Linked DNA regions of Homo sapiens. The protein of the gene in region 1 interacts with the protein of each later gene in a pairwise test. Each region holds a gene or a part of one and is shown in the gene's direction. Other genes may lie near its edges.

Region 1 (3,749 bases):
GCCTCCCAAAGTGTTGGGATTAGCGGTGTAAGCCACTGTGCCTGGCCAACTTCTCACATTTTCTTTTCTTTTCTTCTTCTTTTTTTTTTTTTTGAGATGGAGTCTTACTCTGTTGCCCAGGCTTGAGGGCAGTGGCATGATCTCGGCTCACTGCAACCTCCACCTCCTGGATTCAAGCAATCCTCCCACCTTAGCTTCCCAAGTAGCTGGAATTACAGGTGCATGCCACCACACTAGCTAATTTTTGTATTTTTTAGTAGAGATGGGGTATCACCATGTTGGCCAGGCTGGTCTTGAGCTCCTGACCTCAAATGATCTGCCCAACTCAGCCTCCCAAAGTGCTGGGATTACAGACATGAGCCACCCTGCCTGGCCTTCACATTTTCTTTAGATTATTTCTTAGAACGTCTACCTCTCTGTTCCCATTATCAGTCTGTAATCTCATGTTGTCCACTTTTTCCATTAGAGCCCTTAGCATATTAATCATAGTCGTATTCCATTTCTTGGTCTGATAATTCCAACATCTCTGCCATATTTAAGTGTGGCTCTGATGCTTGCTGTGTCTTCGAACTGTGTTGTTTTTTATTATGCCTTGCAAGTTTTTGTTGAGGGCTGGTCATGCTCAACCAGTAAATGGACTTTCTGTGTGAAGTTTTATGTTGGTCTGGTTAGGGGTTGTGCCATGTGTGCTGTTTGTTAACTGGAGGTGTCAGAGGCTTAAACCTCCTCTAGTGTCTTAGTTTTTGTCTCCCTGTTGTCTTTACGGTTTCCTAGAGATTTCTCGAATAAGCTCTGAGATGAGCAGTTCTTTCACTTGTATCCCCTGTTATTATACAGGAGCCCCGCTGATGTGGCAGTAAGATGTGGGGAAGGAGAGCCAGAGCAGGCTGGGGTTAGCTATGTTCCCTTCCTCCAGGTTTGTTGGTGTCTGGCAAAATTATGATTGGCCTGGCTGTGATTTTTTTTTTTTTTGAGGGCAGGCCTTGTAAAAAAAAAAAAGACTTTTTATTTTTATTATTTTTAAATTTATTTATTTATTTATTATTTTTTTTTTTTTTGAGACAGAATCCCACCCTGTCGCCCAGGCTGGAGTGCAATGGCGCGATCTTGGCTCACTGCAACCTCCACCTCCTGGGTTCAAGTGATTCTCCTGCCTCAGCCTCCGGAGTAGCTGGGATTACAGGTGTGAACCACTGCGCCCGGCCTCTTATTTTTAGGCAGCATCTCACTCTGTCACTTAGGCTGGAGTTCAGTGGTGCCATCATAGCTCACTGCAGCCTCGACCTCCGGGGTTCCAGCAATCCTCCCACCTCAGCCTCCCGAGCAGTTGGGACTACAGGCGCAAGCCACCATGCCCGGGTTTTTTTTCTTTTAATTTTTATAGAGACAGGGGCTCACTTTCCATCCAGGCTGGAAAGGATGCCTTTTATTATTATTATTATTATTATTATTATTATTATTATTATTTTAGATAGAGTCTCTGTCGCCCAGGTTGGAGTGCAGCGGTGCGATCTCGGCTCACTGCAACCTCTGCCTCCCGGTTCAAGCTATTCTCCTGCCTTAGCCTCCGGAGTAGCTGGGATTACTGGCTCCCGCCACTACGCCCGGCTAAATTTTGTATTTTTAGTAGAGTCGGGGTTTCGCCATGTTGGTCAGGCTGGTCAGGAACTCCTGACCTCAAGTGATCCGTCCGCCTCGGCCTCCCAAAGTTCGGGGATTACAGGCGTGAGCCCCGGCGCCCAGCCCTGGATGCCTTGTAAATCACTACTCACCCAGGAAGAGCCAGCGACAGGCCCCGCCCCCGCCAAACGCCTGGCGCCCTCCGTCGCCCGGTTTCCATGGTGACGGGGCGCCAGGCTAGGGCGGCCTGGCCACTGAGCCGGGGTGCAGTGGCAGCGGGAGAGTACCTGGCGATGGCGATATGAGCGGTGCGGGGGTGGCGGCTGGGACGCGGCCCCCCAGCTCGCCGACCCCGGGCTCTCGGCGCCGGCGCCAGCGCCCCTCTGTGGGCGTCCAGTCCTTGAGGCCGCAGAGCCCGCAGCTCAGGCAGAGCGACCCGCAGAAACGGAACCTGGACCTGGAGAAGAGCCTACAGTTCCTGCAGCAGCAGCACTCGGAGATGCTGGCCAAGCTCCATGAGGAGATCGAGCATCTGAAGCGGGAAAACAAGGGTGAGCCGGCGCGGGGCCCTAGGCCGGCCCTGCCTCCCCAGGCACACTCAACACTGCCGCTCCCGCAGCACAGAAACACAGCCATCAACTCCAGCACACGCCTGGGCTCAGGGGGAACACAGGACGGTAAGCCCGCCCTGCCACGCTGAGCTGTCCCCTCCTCCCAGAGGGAGACCCGCGTGGCCCCCGGGCAGTGCCGAACCTGTCTGCCTGTCTCCTAGGGCAGCAGCATTTCAGATGCTGACTCCGCCAGTCCTCTCCTCTCCAAGCAGGGTCAGACACACCTCTGTTAAAAACTTTATAGAGGGGCCCGGGCGCGGCGGCTCACGCCTGTAATTCCAGCACTTTGGGAGACCGAGACGGGCGGATCGCGAGGTCAGGAGATCGAGACCATCCTGGCTAACACGGTGAAACCCCGTCTCTACTAAAAATACAAAAAGTTAGCTGGGTGTGGTGGTGGGCGTCTGTAGTCCCAGCTACTCGGGAGGCTGAGGCAGGAGAATGGCGTGAACCCGGGAGGCGGAGCTTGCAGTGAGCCGAGATCTTGCCACTGCACTCCAGCCTCGGTGACAGAGCGAGACTCCGTCTCAAAAAAAACAAAAACAAACAAACAAAAACTTTATGCAGGGAAACGTGCCCAAGTGCGAGTGCGCAGCTCAGTGAATTTCTTCCAGCTAAACACATCGGATCAGGAGCAGGCATTCCCCCGCCCCCCACCCCGTCCCCGCTTCGCCTGTGCCCATGCTGTCCTCCGGCGGGGCCTTCCCAACTGCACCCTTAGCTGCTCCTCACCCCCACGCCCCCCTTTCTCCCTCCCTCCTCCCCCACCCCTCCTGCCCCGAGCAGGAGGAGGGCCCGCCAGGATGTGGGATGTGGCTCCGCTCCTCGCTCTTGCTTCAGGAGGGCTCCAGCAAGGGCACCAGTGCCCGCGGCCTCCTCTCCCGCCCCGTTCCCTGCTGCTGCCTTACCTGAGTGCCGAGTATCCCATCACCAGGCGTCTGTTTTGTCAGGACCCCGCTTCCCCATGTCTTCTTGAGCCTCAGGACGCCCCGTTCCTCATATCTTCTTGAGCCTCCCCCCAGTCCCTGATGCCCACGGGATCATGACACCGCCATAGCCAGGGATTCCAGAGTTCACCTCTGTACCCCTAAAGCCCAGGTTCTGCCTGGCAGTGTGGACGCCCTCCAGTCATCTCAGATGGATGAGGCTGATATGCCAGGTGGGCTCTGCCTAGGGAACAGGCAGGGGCCACTCCTGGCCTGACACCCACGACAAAGGCATGGTGGAGAGCGGGATCCATGGGGCAGGGCCCAATCAGCCAGTGGGGGGGCAGGACTTTCGGGCTCAGCAGCCAGGAGAGGACAGGCCAGGCTTCTTCTCTCAGAATGGCTGTGGTTTCACAAGTGCTGAGGAGAGCGTGTGCTTGCTTTCAGATCTCCGTTACAAGCTCATAATGAATCAGACATCACAGAAGAAAGGTGAGAACTGGGCCCTTCAGTTCCTGATGGGATGCTCTTGCCACCCAGGGGAGCCCCTCCAGACTGTCCTTGCCCACCTGGCTGCACTGGCCCCTGTATG
Region 2 (3,448 bases), on another chromosome or scaffold:
CAGGTGATCTGGCCAGATTTCCTGAAGTGGTATTTGGGTACCTGTCTCCATCCATGATTGTCATCAGCACACCAAACTCTGAATTCAATCCCCTGTTTCCATCAGTGACCTTAAGAGATTCAGATCATAAATTTGAGTGGACCAGAATGGAGTTTCAGACCTGGTAAGTTCAGAAGGGTTTTTGTTTATTTGGGATCCTGTTGGAGTTTAAAATCTTAGGAAATAAATATTGATATACATACATTACCTAAATTGTTTTGTACTTTCTTCCAATAAAATTGATTCCAATGTGTGACTTAGTATGTAATAAGATCACAAAGGAACCATTGCATTTGGGCAAGTGTGGAAAGGGGGTGTGGTTACTGGGCACCTTTTATGTGAAGGCATCTGTAGTACTGGCATGGAGATGAGGAACAAAACAGAGGGAAGGTTTGGGACAGTGAGAATGAGCCTCATGCCCCTCCCCGGGATATCTCCTGAGGCTTAGTCATGTTTTCTGGTGTAATTGCAAACCCAAATGGGTAGTTGGGTTGAGCACTTGTTGCCTCCTTGTCCACCCCTACACCCTGCCCATAATTTTCCTTTCGTCTTCCATATTCTTAGGGTAAATTGGAAACTGACACTATATCCTTGCCTTGACTTCTCTTAGAAATAAATACACTGGTGGTTAGGAATTTGTAACTTAGAAGTATTTATGTTCATTGTATTTTTCATGTTCTCTTTTACTGCTGACCAGAAATGGTTCCTTATTTAACAGTAGCTCTACATTTAGAAAAATGATTGCTGTCCTCGTTTTGGTTTCAGGGCTTTATATGTGGCAAATCGCTATGATTACTCTGTGGAGTTTACTGGTGTCGGGGAACCACCAGCTGGAGCTGAGAATGTTGGATACTGTACCCAGATAGGAATCTTCCGGAAAAATGGAGGAAAGGCAACAGAATCATGTCTTTCAGAGCAGCATGATCAGCATGTTTATAAAGCTGTGAGTATTCTTTGTGAGATAGCTATCAGGGCTAGAGATACATTAGGATGGTGAACTTTTTTGGGGAGTAAGAATCCCCAAAGTAGAGATGAGTGTAAATGACCTTGCTTTGTGGTTCACTCTAGGAGAATTCTTCAGGCCCCATGACTACTGTCCGAGTTAGCCTACGGTGTCCTTTGAGACTGCCTGGCCTTTTGGTGTTTCAAGGCATGTTAAAGGGAATGATCTGCTGGGGTTGTCTTAGAATACTTCAAAGTAGCTGGGTACAGTGGCTCACACCTGTGATCCTAGCATGTTGGGAGGCCAAGGTAGAAAGATTGCTTGAACCCAGGAGTTCGAGTGCAGCCTGGACAACATAGTGAGATCTCCCATCTCTACAAAAAAACACCCAGAATACTTGAAAGCAATAGTTGAGCAACCTCTTTTTGTAATCTGTTAGGATTATCAGTAGTAAAAAGGAAAGCCAGCAGCAGTTTCTCCCCAGCTTGGCTTAGGACATTACTCTTTGAGCCTACAAACTTCTCAGACCCTTTTGGTTTAAAGAGAGAAGAAGAAGAAACACTTCCTCCCCCTCTTTAAAAATTTTATTTAATTAGGGACAGGGTCTTGTTCTGTCACCGAGGCTGGAGTGCACCGGCACAATCATGGCTCACTGTAACCTTGAATTCCTGGGCACAAACGATCCTCCCACTTGAGCCTCCTAAGTAGCTAGGACGACAGGCGTGCACCACCATGCTCAGCTTTTTTTTGTTTTGTTTTTTGTTTTTTTTTCCGTAGAGACAGGGTCTCACTATGTTGCCCAGGCTGGTCTTGAACTTCCATCCTCAAGCAATCCTCCTGCCCCATCTTCCTAAAATGCTGAGATTACAGGTGTGAGTCACTGCACTTACCCACGTTTTCCCTTTTAACTGAACCATTTTTCATTTTTTTTTGCCCTTGCCCCTGTAATATCAAGTAGAAATACTGGGTTCATGTGACTTGGTAGAAACCTGGCTGGGAGACATTGGGCATTAGCATTAGAAAGCAAATCGGATAGTTAATTTCTATGTGTCAGTGATTTGATTCCCATTATAACTGAGGCATTTACGATTAGTAGGATCTGACATATATTCAATATGTACATTTATTCTTACATGGCAAAAAAGTTATTGATGGCTTTGAAAATTTATGTATGTTTATATTATTATACACTTGTAAGTGTTTTGTTTTTTCCCTTCAGGTTTTTACCACCTCATACCCAAGCTTACAGCAGGAAAGGTTCTTTAAACTTGTGTTGGTTAATGAGGTGTCCCAACAAGTGGAAAGCTTAAGAGTGAGCCACCTGCCAAGGCGGAAAGAACAGGCTGGGGAACGGGGTGATAAGCCCAAAGACATTGGTGGCTCAAAGGCCCCTGTCCCATGCTTTGGACCAGTCTTCACAGAGGTTGAGAAGGCCAAGATAGAGAACTCTCCCACACCCTTCTGTGTTGGAGATAAATTTTTCGTACCTCTGCAGAGACTCCTTGCGTATCCCAAGTTGAACCGCTTATGTGCTAATGAAGAGATGATGAGATCAGTCATTGCTGACTCAATTCCTCTGAGCAGTGATGGTTCTGCAGTGGTGGCTGACCTGCGTAATTATTTTGATGAACAGTTTGAGTTTTGAACCATGTTTATTTCCTGAAATTTCAGGGTCTCAGCGATAGTTGTGCTCACTTAGAATTTAGTTTTTTTTGTGTAATCCTAATTCAAGTAATGTTTTTAAAGTTTCACTGCAAAAGTCTATGTTCCAAGCCATTGGACAGACCTGCTTGAGATATGGCCAGACTGCAGTGAGCCCTGAGAAAGATATGAGGGTTTAAAACGGGTGCTTTCCTTTGATTTTGGACTTTTTTGTTTTCTCAAGAATAAAGAAGTTGGATGTGGTAATATGTTAATTTTGAACTTACCTATTTTTTTTGTGTTAAAGCCATGAGTTGATTGTTGTTAGTCTGTTCTCACATTGCTGTGAAGAACTACCTGAGACTGGGTAATTTATAAAGAAAAGAGGTTTAATTGACTTACAGTTCTGCAGGCTGCACAGGAAGCATGCAGGAAGCTGGGGAGGCCTCAGGAAACTTACAGTCTTGGTGGAAGGCGAAGGGGAAGCAGGCACGTCTTATATAGCTAGAGCCGGAGGAAGAGAGCTTGGGGAGGTCTACACACTTTTAAACAACCAGGTTTAATAACAAGAATAGCAAGGGGGAAATCCGCCCTCATAACCCAATCACCTCCCACCAGCCCCCTCCTCCAATATTGGGGATTACAATTTGACATGAGATTTGGGCAAGGACAGAAATACAAACCATATCAATTGTGATATTAAAAATTTAAGAGAAAGTTATCAAATATAGTGTTCAAAACCTTTTCTTTGGGGTAAGAGTAGCTTTAAAATTTTTCTGGGATTCTCTATCTCCTTAATGCCAAATTCTAACCTGTGTAATATTT

The links. Proteins that work in one complex are often made in the same cells at the same time.
Region 2: the proteins of CCDC74B (region 1) and HENMT1 interact in binary tests that used the Homo sapiens proteins (3 or more experiments, as listed by UniProt).

What each region holds. Positions count from the first base shown.
Region 1 is NC_000002.12:130,143,169-130,146,917, reverse strand, and holds the start of CCDC74B (coiled-coil domain-containing protein 74B), read left to right. Parts: upstream 1-1,805; 5' UTR 1,806-1,921; coding exon 1,922-2,171; coding exon of another isoform or gene 2,172-2,297; intron 2,298-2,443; exon of another isoform or gene 2,444-2,578; intron 2,579-3,604; coding exon 3,605-3,649; intron 3,650-3,749.
Region 2 is NC_000001.11:108,647,745-108,651,192, reverse strand, and holds the end of HENMT1 (small RNA 2'-O-methyltransferase), read left to right. Parts: coding exon 1-163; intron 164-804; coding exon 805-982; intron 983-2,201; coding exon 2,202-2,627; 3' UTR 2,628-2,898; downstream 2,899-3,448. UniProt on the Homo sapiens protein: Methyltransferase that adds a 2'-O-methyl group at the 3'-end of piRNAs, a class of 24 to 30 nucleotide RNAs that are generated by a Dicer-independent mechanism and are primarily derived from transposons and other repeated sequence elements.